3 linked regions of the Homo sapiens genome follow. The protein of the gene in region 3 purifies or fractionates together with the protein of the main gene of each other region. This does not show direct contact. Each region holds a gene or a part of one and is shown on either strand. Other genes may lie near its edges.

Region 1 (3,650 bases), on a different chromosome or scaffold from region 3:
ATAAAGATGGCCAGGATATGGCCCCTGCTTTCAGAGAGTTCACACTGGGTAAAAACTATGTTCACAAAACCACCACAGTGCAATCTACATGCCTGGCATGTAGCATGTGTTCAATACATTAGCTAATTCGATGAATAAAAGAAACGACTGAATGATGCACGATTCAAGTGTATATAAAGTGTGATGTGGTAGGACCTAAGCTTTCTATTTCTTTCTCATAAAGTGATTGTGACCATAAACACAGCAGGTGTTCAATAAATGTTTATTGTGTGAATAATAACTATGATGAATTATGTTAGCAATCATCAAGCACTGTGCCAAGTGCCTTTACCTACATTATCTCACTTATCTTTCCAACAAATACTATTAACAGCCCCTTTTTCAGAGCAGAACACAGAGCAGAGGGCAAAGTAAATAAACTTGCCCAAAGTCGCAGTTTGGAGCTGAAGTCCAAGCCACAGATGCCTCTCTGTTGGCACTTCAGAGACTGGAGTAGGTTTCTTTTTTCTTTCCAAAGCTCTGTTTTAGCCTCTTTGACAGGGAATAAATAATAAATGACAACAGAGCACTCTGCACCAGAAAGTACCAGGGCTCCAGGGTAGCATCAGTGTCGGGGGAAACGCCATCAGCTGGGAAATTACTCATACAGCTCCTCCTGCCAAAAGAGAATGAAGTCCTCACTGGGGACTGAGAGAGGAAGAACAATGATTCAGAATGAAAACCAAGCCCCTGAGAGCCAGTCTGAAATCTGTACTGACAGTTCCCTTGCAAAGTTTTTGAACAGGGGGTTTTCTCTCGTTCTAAAAGAACAGAATTGGATCTGAGCGCTAAAGTGGTTGAGGTTAGGTGTGTGTGTCCACAGTTTGGCATTGATTATATTTTTCTAATTTCCTTTTAGAAAATGCTCCTAACTAGAACCTTTTACAACCTAATATCCTGCTGGTTGTTATGGTAAGAAAAAATGTGTGTTCACAGCAGACATGCCAACTTAGCCCCAGACCTGCCGTGAGAGGCTGTTATCACAGCCATTTGCATTTCACTCAAAGGGACTGCTTTCATGAGGTTACTAAAGTATTTAACAAGGTTCATAAAACTGAAATTCATTTATGAAGGCCAGGATTGGACTGTTCCACCAACCCATTTTAACAAGACAGTGATTTCTACCTTGAGTGACAGCACTGTGCTTGCTAAGTTGGTTCTCTGGATTTCCGGCACGTTGGTGGTCAGCATTTCATCTCGGTAGGCACGTTCTGTGTACAACCTGTAACACTTCCCTGGGCCTGTTCTCCCAGCTCTGCCAGCTCGTTGCTTTGCCTGAGCCTAGAGGGGTGGGCATATAAAAGCAACATATCTGTTAAACACTGCTTAACAGCTTTACCCAGGATATCTGTTAAAAGGGGGACAATTAACAACTGGCAAAATCAGAAATGGGGTTGATTTCACTTCCTTTGGGACCATTTCCAAGACTACCAATGCTCTTATCTTCCCCTCTCCATACTCAGCACTTCGGGGAAGTTTGTTCGAGGGAGGCAATACAAGCAGGGTTAATGGAAGAAATATTATACAGATCTGAGACATATATCTTCAAAATAGTGTGGCGCAATATAAAAGAGAAAGCATAAAACAAGATGACAGAACACCATCCCCACAGTTATGACCAAAAATGTAAGTGAAATAAACATATTACGTCAATCATCCCAATGATGACTCTGCAGTCATTTTAAAAATTATGTTTGCAGGCCAAGCGTCGTGGCTTATGCCTATAATCCCAGCACTTTGGGAGGCCAAGGTGGGCAGATTGCATGAGCCCAGGAGTTCGAGATCAGCCAGGGCAATATGTTGAAACTTCATCTCTACAAAAAATACAAAAATTAGCTTGGTGTGGTGGCTCACGCCTGTAGTCCCAGTATTCAGGAGGCTCAGATGGGACGATCACCTGAGCCTGGGGAGGTCGAGGCTGGCTGCAGTAAGCCGTAATCACACCACTGCACTACAGCCTGGGCAACAACAAAGACTGATCCTGACTCAAAATAAAATAAAAAATAAAAATAAAAATCATGTTTGCAATGTTAAATGACAGAAGAAAATGTTCATTCGCATTAAATGCAAAATGCAAGTTACGAAACAATGTAAAATAATTTTAGTAAAAGTCTTTATATATCAACTACTAGAAGGAAATGACTAGGCGAAAAAAACCCTAAAATGTTAACAGTGGCTAACTCTGATAGTAGGCTTGCAGATGAGGTCTATTTTCTTTAGATTTTACCAAATATTGAACATGTATTATTCTAATAGGAAAATTAAATACTCAAAAAAATATACAAAACTGCATACTTACTTGACTACTAAAATTGCAACCATGAAAGAAATAAACATGAAAAAAGACTGGAATGAAAAACAGCAAAATAATAACAGTGGAGGTAGTAGGATGGTGGGTAAATTTTTTTCTTCTGTTTTTCAAAAATAATAAAACACTACTTCAAAAACACTGATTTTTTTTTAATTAAAAAAAATGTAGTTTAGCCATAGGTTGCTAGGAAACAATGAATAGCAATCTGAAGAGGGCCATTTTCTGACAAAACCATCTGTTGTTACAAACAGTACCAGGATTTACAAATTACTATGCCAGCTCCAAACCAAAGGATAGGTTATGAAAGGACAACTAACCACACAAATCCAGGCAGCAATCACACACAGTGGCTGGACTCTACAGCATTCTACACATGTCTCTCTCCAAATCAGGACAGGCATGTGTAACTAATTTTTTGATCACCGCCACCCTGACAAGTAGTATAGAGCATACAAGCTGGAGCCAGGCTACCCAGGTTCAAATCTTGGCTCCACTAGCTCTGTGATGTTAGGCAAATCACCTAACCCCTCTGTGCCTCAGGTTCCTCATCTGTGAAAATAATATCTACCACATAGGATCAATGCGAGAATGCACCAAGTCAATGCATGTATCTAGGACGTTAAGTACACTGTAAGTGTTAGCTATTATTGGGCCAGGCGCGGTGGCTTATGCCTGTAATCCCAGCACTTTGGAAGGCTGAGGCGGGTGGATCATGTGGTCAGGAGATGGAGACCATCCTGGCTAAGACAGTGAAACCCCATCTCTACCAAAAATACAAAAATTAGGTGGTCATGGCGGCATGCGCCTGTAGTCCCAGCTACTTGGGAGGCTGAGGCAGAGGAATCACTTGAACCCAGGAGGCCGAGGTTGCAGTGAGCTGAGATTGCACCACTGCACTCCAAACTGGGCGACAGAGCAAGGCCCCATCTCAAAAAACAAAACAAAACAAAAAGTGTTAGCTATTATTATTACTTAAGTTTCAAAATAAAAATAGCCTTAAGGCTTTCACAAATTATGAAAGTAATACATACCCACTGTAAAAGATTAAGACAACATATAAAAGTATAAAAGAAAATGCACATCATCTAGTAGCACCACCCATAAATAATCTTGGCTAACATTTAGACTACATGCTTTCAATCTTGGGCACAGCTCACTCACACATACTCTGAAGAAATGCTCACCATCTATTTTTAAACAAAAATTGGATTATACCATTCATGCTGTTTTGTAGGCTCACTTTTTCAAAGAAAATATTATAGTTACATGTTTATGTCATTAAATATAGATACACACCACC
Region 2 (3,650 bases), on a different chromosome or scaffold from region 3:
TCCATTTTAGGGACAGAAATTTAGGCTTAGTGAGATTAAGTAACTTATTCAAGGCCACATTGCTAATAAGCAGCGGGGTCAGGATTCAAACCCAGTCCAGCCTGACAAAGAGGCCAGAGCCCCTGAACACAGTGGTATACAAGCTCCTTTTCCATTGCTTTCTTCCTCAAAATCCAGCCCTAAGTGCTGGTTATCCACCCCCACTGCCCTCAGACAGAGTGTCAGGTCATCCCCTATAGACCTCCCCTCTCACAAAGAAGGTACCACAGGTCTGTCTGGCCCCGAATGGAACCCCACTATCATTAGCATGGATGCTGTAGAACCCTCCCTATGCTGGTCCAATCAGACCAACTAGGATAGAAGCATTCGCAGCAATGGAAGCTGGCACCACCATTGTCTTTGCCTTGTCACAACATCAGGGTTCCTGCTGTGTAAATAACACATAGAGTACCTCACTACAGCTGACAGAGCTGGGGACCCCTTCTTGCTCAATTCCCTGCTATCTGCCTGACCCTAGTCTGCATGTTGGAACGGCTGCCTCATCAACCAGACCACCTCGGGGGCCCAGGCCAAGGGCTTCAGTGAAGAGAGCTGCCCAGCACAATGGATTCTGGGATTCTGGAGGAAAGTTACCCAGTGCAATGGATTCTGGGGTTTGGGAGGAGAGCTGCCTAAAGCAATTGGTTCTAGGATTCTGGAGGAAAGTTACCCATTGCAATGCATTCTGGGATTCGGGAGGAGAGCCACCTAGAGCAATGGGTTCTGGGATTCTGGAGGAAAGTTACCCAGCACAATGCATTCTGGGATTCGGGAGGAGAGCTGCACAGAGCAATGGGTTCTGGGATTCTGGAGGAAAGTTACCCAGTACAATGCATTCTGAGATTCAAGAGGAGAGTTGCACAGAACAATGGTTTCTGGCATTCTGGAGAAAAGTTATCCGGTGCAATGCATCATTCTGAGATTCAGGAGGAGAGCTGCCTAGAGCAATGGGTTCTGGGATACTGGAGGAAAGTTACCCAGTACAATGGATTCTGGGATCCCGTGAAGAGAGCTGCCCAGGGTGATAGATTCTGAGTTGCATTTCTGAAGGCAAAGAAAAGTGGGCTTTTTATCAGGCGCTGACTGAAAAGCAGCAGGTGTGTGCATATGAAGGAGGGAAGAGTGCAGTGAACAGGAAAGCATCCAAGTGGGAAATGATCTTCAAGGAGGAAAAATGGCCAATTGGGGCTGGGCTGTGAGTAGGCAGAGTCGTGAGAACAGCAGGCATGGCTGAGTGTGTGTAGAAGCACCAAGTCCCAGACAGCTATTTTTTTCCTGAGCTGCTGGATGGGAGGGGCGGGGAGTCAACACTGCACTCGGGGTCAGGAGGCATGGGGTTGAGGCCTGGCTTAGCCACTGAGTGCCTTGCCCTGGGCTCAAGGACTCAATTCCATGGATGTAAAGGGGAATACTCATCAAACTCACTGCACTGCCATGAGGATTAAATGAGTAGCTACTTGTAATCACAGGCTATAAAAGCACGCCAGTGGTTCTCAACCCTGGCTACACATTAGAATATTCCAAGGAGCTTGTAAAAAACACACTAATGTCAGAGCCTCGCCATTAGACCTCTAAAATAATTGGTTTGGGGCAGGGCTCTGATAAGCTTTTTTTTTTTTTTTAAACCCCCAAGGAGAGTCTGTTGTGCAGCCAGGGTTGAGAAACATTGCTCCAAACCAATGGAAGGTCACCATCACCACCACCATCATCATTAGATGTGCCTGTGTACTCTGCCCAGGAGGCTCTGGGGAGAAGTGCCAGCTACCCACTCCTGGGAAGCACCCAACTTTTAAATTCCATTTCTCTCCCCAAGCCAGGTTCTGGGTTTGAAATGCACCTGAGGCATTCAGCACAATGGTTTGATATGACTCCCTCCTCCATGGGGAAGCTGTCAGCTTTCCTTTTAGGAAAGCACCTAAGAAAGTCACTCCTCATTCCAACAAATAAAAGTGCTCCCGTTTTAGGCTTGGGGAACCCAGCAGAAAATCTGAAGCAAAGCTGAGGGACAAAGACCCCTTCAGAATAAGTGGATGCCTATTAGCCCCTCTGAGGCCCTCTAGTCCACCCGCTCTGGAGGGCAGGTCCGTGGTGTGTGCTCCCCGGTATACATCAGCCAGATTCCTCGCAGCAATGGCTTGGTCTAGACAAAACAAGACAGCAATAAAAACCAGCCAGGAGGTAATGACTGCCTCTGAAACGCATGTACACCTTGTTTCAGACAGGAGGCAAAGCCATCTGGATAATACACTGGCTCTAAACTGCAAGGAAAACAATGTCCCATCCCCAGAGGGGCCCGGGGCTCTGATAAAGAAGGCTTTTGTCTCCAAGAGGAGCTTCTCTTGGAGACACACAAAAGTTTCAATTAGATCTGGCAGATGGGTCTTGTCTCAACTCCCAGCATGTTATTCAGAAACGTGTTATTCAGAAACGTGTTATTCAGACACTGGGGTAGGAGAGAAGAGGTGAAGTTAGGAGTTTGTGGTCCCAGAAGTTAGCCTAGCATTCTTCTATGCCAATAGACCCGAGAATCAGCCACATGTCACACTGGAGATAAATCGTGGTTCTCTACGGACGAGTTAACACTAAACACAAACCAAGATAGAGCTGCTCAGCTGGGGGCTACAGGGCAGTTTCAAACCTGCTGCATGCATGCCAGGAGTGTGCTGGGAGTGATGGGATCAGGAGAGGTAACCCAAAACCTCACTCGGCTGCCTGGGGCTCTGTAGCCAACATGTCCTCCTCAAGGACACTTTGAAGATGCTGGATGCCTATGTAGCATTCCAGCCTGGCAAAGCCTCCAAATATTTCACTGTGTCACCCTGTCAACTGCGGGGTGGGCAAGAATGCCTATAAAAGGATATAGTGGTCCCCATCCACCTCCTAGAGCAGAGTTTAGCAAACTTTTGCTGTGAAGGGTCAGACAGCAAATATTTTAGGCTTGGTGGGCTATACGGTCTTGGCTGCACCTCAATTCTGCCACTGCAGTGCGAAAGCAGCCCTAGATAACATGTAAACAAATAGGCAGGACTGTGCCACTGTATTTTATTTAGAAAAATACTCAGGACATAGTTTGCCAACCCCTGTCCCAGAGGTTCATTCTCATCTCCCATGCTCAGGTTGGAGGGAAACGAATACAGAGGAAATAAGAAAGCAAAAAGTCAGAACTGAGATGTTCCTCCAACCCAGGTAGCCGAGGAGACGGGCTCTCACTTATCAGCTTGAACCTCCAGACCCTGAGCCGACGTTCAAACCCTTACAAGCCTTGTGGTCTTTGGGCATGGAAACTCCCATCACCCTGCTGTACCCTGTTGCTAGGGTGCCACCGGGCTGCTTGGGAAGGATGCGTGTGCTCCTTCCACTGCCAATGAGAAAGACGGCCGAAAACACGGACCCTCTAGGGCCACCAAACCTCAGCAGGTCAGAGAAGTTCCCCCCACAACAGTTGCTGATTTGGGAAAACTGCCTCCTGAGACTCTATACTGGAGCCTTGGCTTCAGCTATGAACCCATGGCTTTTTGCTGACAGGTATTGGAACTAGGGTTTGGGCCCCTACAGGACCGGATGGGGCCGAGGGCTTATCCCAGAGACTCGTGAGTGGGCAGAACTGGTAT
Region 3 (3,750 bases):
ATGTGCGCCTGTAATCCCAGCTACTCGGGACACTGAGGCAGAAGAATCGCTTGAAACCGGGAGGTGGAGGCTACAGTGAGCTGAGATGGTGACACTCCAGCCTGGGTAACAAGAGCGAAACTCTGTCTCAAAAAAAAAAAAAAAAGAAGATTCCCAAGTCTATTGCTCTAATTTATCAATGTTAAAAATAAAAAATGTAGTATTAAAAAAGAAAATGCTTTCCAAAAAAAGTTATGTATCACTGCTATTGAAAATAGCCCAAATATTATCTACCGTTTAGCCTCTTAGCTAAGATTCCCAAATACTGTTTTTCTTTTTAAAGAAATTAAAACAAGATAAAACTATGCAACGGCATTTAAAAGTACTGTCCTATTTGGGCCGTCACAGCAAAAAGCCTCGTATTTTAAGAGGTAAATATTAAAGATACTCTTTAACAATCATAGTATCGAATAAAGTATTGGCACTTTAAGAGTTCATAAAATTTATGCTAATTTAGTTACCAGCATAATTACACTTTTTCTTTTTCTTTTTTTTTTTTTTGTAGACAGAGTCTCACTCTGTCACTGGGCTGGATTGCAGTGGCGCAGATCTCGGCTCACTGCAACCTCCGCTTCCCAGGTTCAAGCGATTCTCCTGCCTCAGCCTCCTAAGTAGCTGGGATTACAGGTGCCTGCCACTACGCCCAGCTAATTTTTTGTATTTTTAGTAGAGACAGGGTTTCACCACGTTGGCCAGGCTGGTCTTGAACTCCTGACCTCGTGATTGGCCCGCCTCGGCCTCCCAAAGTGCTGGGATTACAGGCCTGAGCCACTGTTCCCGGCCATAATTACACTTTCCAAGGCGTACGGGTAGGGATACTAATGCTGACTGTGCAGATGTGTACTTGCTATGTTTGATGTTTACATTAAGGCCTATTGAAGTCGGAGTTTAAAAAGAAATTGAATACATCAAAACCTGTCTTCTTCCAGACTAGTAAATTCAACTACACAGTGAAAATGGAATCTGCTTTTTAAAATCTTGTTTGACACGTGAATGAACCAGCGAGAAATGTTTCCCCCATAATCTTCCATCTCTCGATGCACAGATCTCTCCCTACCATTTGTCTTTATGTCGTGATGGATTAGAAGAGGAGCGAGTAAAAATAAAAGATATTGCAGAATAACCTTTGCCTGCCTACCAACCATCCAATTAGCTCAAGTCCCTAGCTGGCAAATTACCTAGTCAACAATGCCTCAATTATAAACACTACGTGTAACGTGACCACAGATCAACACCCCGTAGGTTCATTTCCCCCACCGCCCCCAATCGGTGTTAGCCTCAGTGAGGACCCGGGAAGGTCTGGAGAGTCATGTCCAGCGTCCACTTAAATCCTCAAAGGCCCAGGAAGGAGGTGGGCGGGCCAGGCCTCGGCGGAACTGACCTCGAGGGACCTGTCGGGAGTCTCCGGGTGAGGGCCCAACCGGGTCTTTCCCTCCGAGCTCGCAGCCATTCCATAGGACGCCGGAGACGCCAGAACCTCCCTCCGCCCCAGGGCGGCCCTCCCCCAACCCTCCTCCCGGACCCGGGGGAGGGGCACCCAGAGGAGAAACACCCCTCCCCCACGGGCACTGCTAGGCCACCGCTCACCCCACCCTTAAAAAACCCGCAGGCCCGCGCCCACCCTCCGGGCCCCGGCCTCGACCAGGGGTGGGGGCGGTGCGGGCAGGAGCAGGGGAACCCGGCTGCCATACCAACCTCGCTATTGAAGGTCTTCACGGCCTCCATGTTGTCGCTGCGGAGGCCCCGAGCCCGGCGGCGGAAGAGGCGGCGGCCACTGCACTGGGTGGGGAGAGCGAGACGCGGGCTGCTGCGTGGCCGCGAGGAGGGGGCGCTGGCGGGAGAGCGGGCCGCTGCGACCTCGGGGCGGAGTGGAAGGGCACGCGCTGGCGGGGAAGGGCTCCCTCAGCGGCAGAGCGGCACCGGCATGGCCGCTAGGGCGGGGGGAGCGCCGTTCTAGGGAACAGAGGCGCTGCCGGGGCGGGTCGGCGGCGGGCGGGGGAGGGGCTGGGCCGCGGCGCCTTCTCTTCTCTGCCCCGCTCCGTTTCGGTCCCCCTCCCTCTAGCCCCTTCCCCTACACTCTCCACTCCCTTCTGCCCCTTCCTCCGACGGGCTCCTGTTTCACCTCCCCGCCGCTCGGGCCGCAGGAACCAGCCCCGCTCGGCGAAGACAGAGGAGGAAGCGCTGGCAGCAGCGGCTGCGGCATCCAATATGGCGGACTCGAGTCGGGCCGCGCAGTTCGGGGATCCGCGGCGCCGGCTAGCGCGCCCCCTGGCGACTGGACCGTGCGAGCCCCGGCGGCCGCGCGGAAACCATCGAGCGCGCTGGGGCCAGAGCGTCGCCGCCCGTAGGCCCGGCTGGGCTCCGCTGCCCTCGCCTTGGCTCCGGGGCCGCCCGCGCCTCGCCCCCTCCCCGCGCCCCGCGGACGCGGGAGTGAGCGCTGCGGCATCCGGGGGAACGCCGCGGCGGGTTTGTACAGCAGGAGGAGGCAACTCCAAAGCGCGGCTCTAATAAGAGCCTAAACGTGCCCAAGAAGCGGCAAGTTGAGGAAATGTGCGCGTTTCCCTTGTTTCCCGGTGGATTGGTCCTTTTGCACAAGCGGCAGGGTTTAGTTGCTTTTCACAACTTTACTGGACAGTGCCCTAAACATCCGCAGCCTTCGCCAAGAAAAAGTTCCTGGTCATCTATTTAGTAACTGAACTCAATTGTTTTAACTGCACAGGGAGGGAACATTAGAAACCAAAGCCTTGGATTCGGGTTGGGGCAGGCGGCGAGGGAAACAGGCATGCAGCAGCTCCTTGCAGGAAATGCCCGCTGCATAGGATCCAGGGACTGGAGTGGCACAATGAGCGCATTTGTCTGCAAGGCGGGAAGGGGACCCTAGAATGCACAACACTTGAATAGGTGAAAAGGGAACCCGTCTGTTTCGGAAGATGAATTGTTCTAAAGGAATTTTGCCCTAGGATACTTGGAGTAAAGGTAAATACAGTATTTCTTAGATGGATTAGGAGATGCTGCTAGTAAAAAGCCTTCTCTCTCGTGCAGCGCAAAATAAGGTACCAATTTAAAAATACTTATCGATGTTAAAAGATAGGGATGTATCGTGGAACCCCGAACACTGCTGTCCTCTTGTTGAAAGTCATTTTTCAACAATCATTCCCAAATTCACTCAAAGGGAGAGAGGAACATAAGGGCAGGATCGTACTTTTGGAGAGTTTTGGAATCAAGGTAGTTCCTAAGAGCTGTGCGCAGAGCCCCGTGAAACTGGGAAAGTAAGGCCCTTCTTGAGGTTTCAGAGCCTTCATTCTACTTCATTGGCAGCTTTAGTATAGGGCCTGGCTACTGAGAAGGTAACAGGGATAACTCACCAAGTGCTTTTATATTTACTTTCAAAATCTCAAATTCTGTCACAGATTTCTCCACCGTCTCCCATCTTCAGGCCTAGCCATGATCTTTTACTGACACTTGCAGTAGCCTCCTAACTGGTCCCTTGCTTGTCTTCCTACAGTTCATTTCCAGACAGTAGCCGAGGGATGTTTTTCTTAGATAAATCAGATCAGGTCACTCCCTTACTTAAATCCCTTAAATACTTTCTCATTGCCCATTTGATACCATCATAACTTCTCACCATGGCCTGAAGGCCCAGCCCAGCCTGCCGCAGCTCACACCACCTTCCCTTGCTCCCTGACTCTCCTCCTGCCACACTGGCCTTTC

What was found.
Region 1: the proteins of SCAF8 (region 3) and DHX8 purify together in Homo sapiens (co-immunoprecipitation; one large-scale study listed by IntAct). This does not show direct contact.
Region 2: the proteins of SCAF8 (region 3) and FOSL2 purify together in Homo sapiens (co-immunoprecipitation; one large-scale study listed by IntAct). This does not show direct contact.

Annotation. Positions count from the first base shown.
Region 1 is NC_000017.11:43,514,837-43,518,486, reverse strand, and holds part of DHX8 (ATP-dependent RNA helicase DHX8), read right to left. Parts: intron 1,321-3,650; coding exon 1,165-1,320; intron 656-1,164; exon of another isoform or gene 425-655; intron 1-424.
Region 2 is NC_000002.12:28,399,250-28,402,899, reverse strand, and holds part of FOSL2 (fos-related antigen 2), read right to left. Parts: intron 1-3,650.
Region 3 is NC_000006.12:154,731,915-154,735,664, reverse strand, and holds the start of SCAF8 (SR-related and CTD-associated factor 8), read right to left. Parts: upstream 2,250-3,750; 5' UTR 2,243-2,249; coding exon of another isoform or gene 2,115-2,242; 5' UTR 1,871-2,114; coding exon of another isoform or gene 1,765-1,870; coding exon 1,735-1,764; intron 1-1,734. UniProt on the Homo sapiens protein: Anti-terminator protein required to prevent early mRNA termination during transcription. Together with SCAF4, acts by suppressing the use of early, alternative poly(A) sites, thereby preventing the accumulation of non-functional truncated proteins.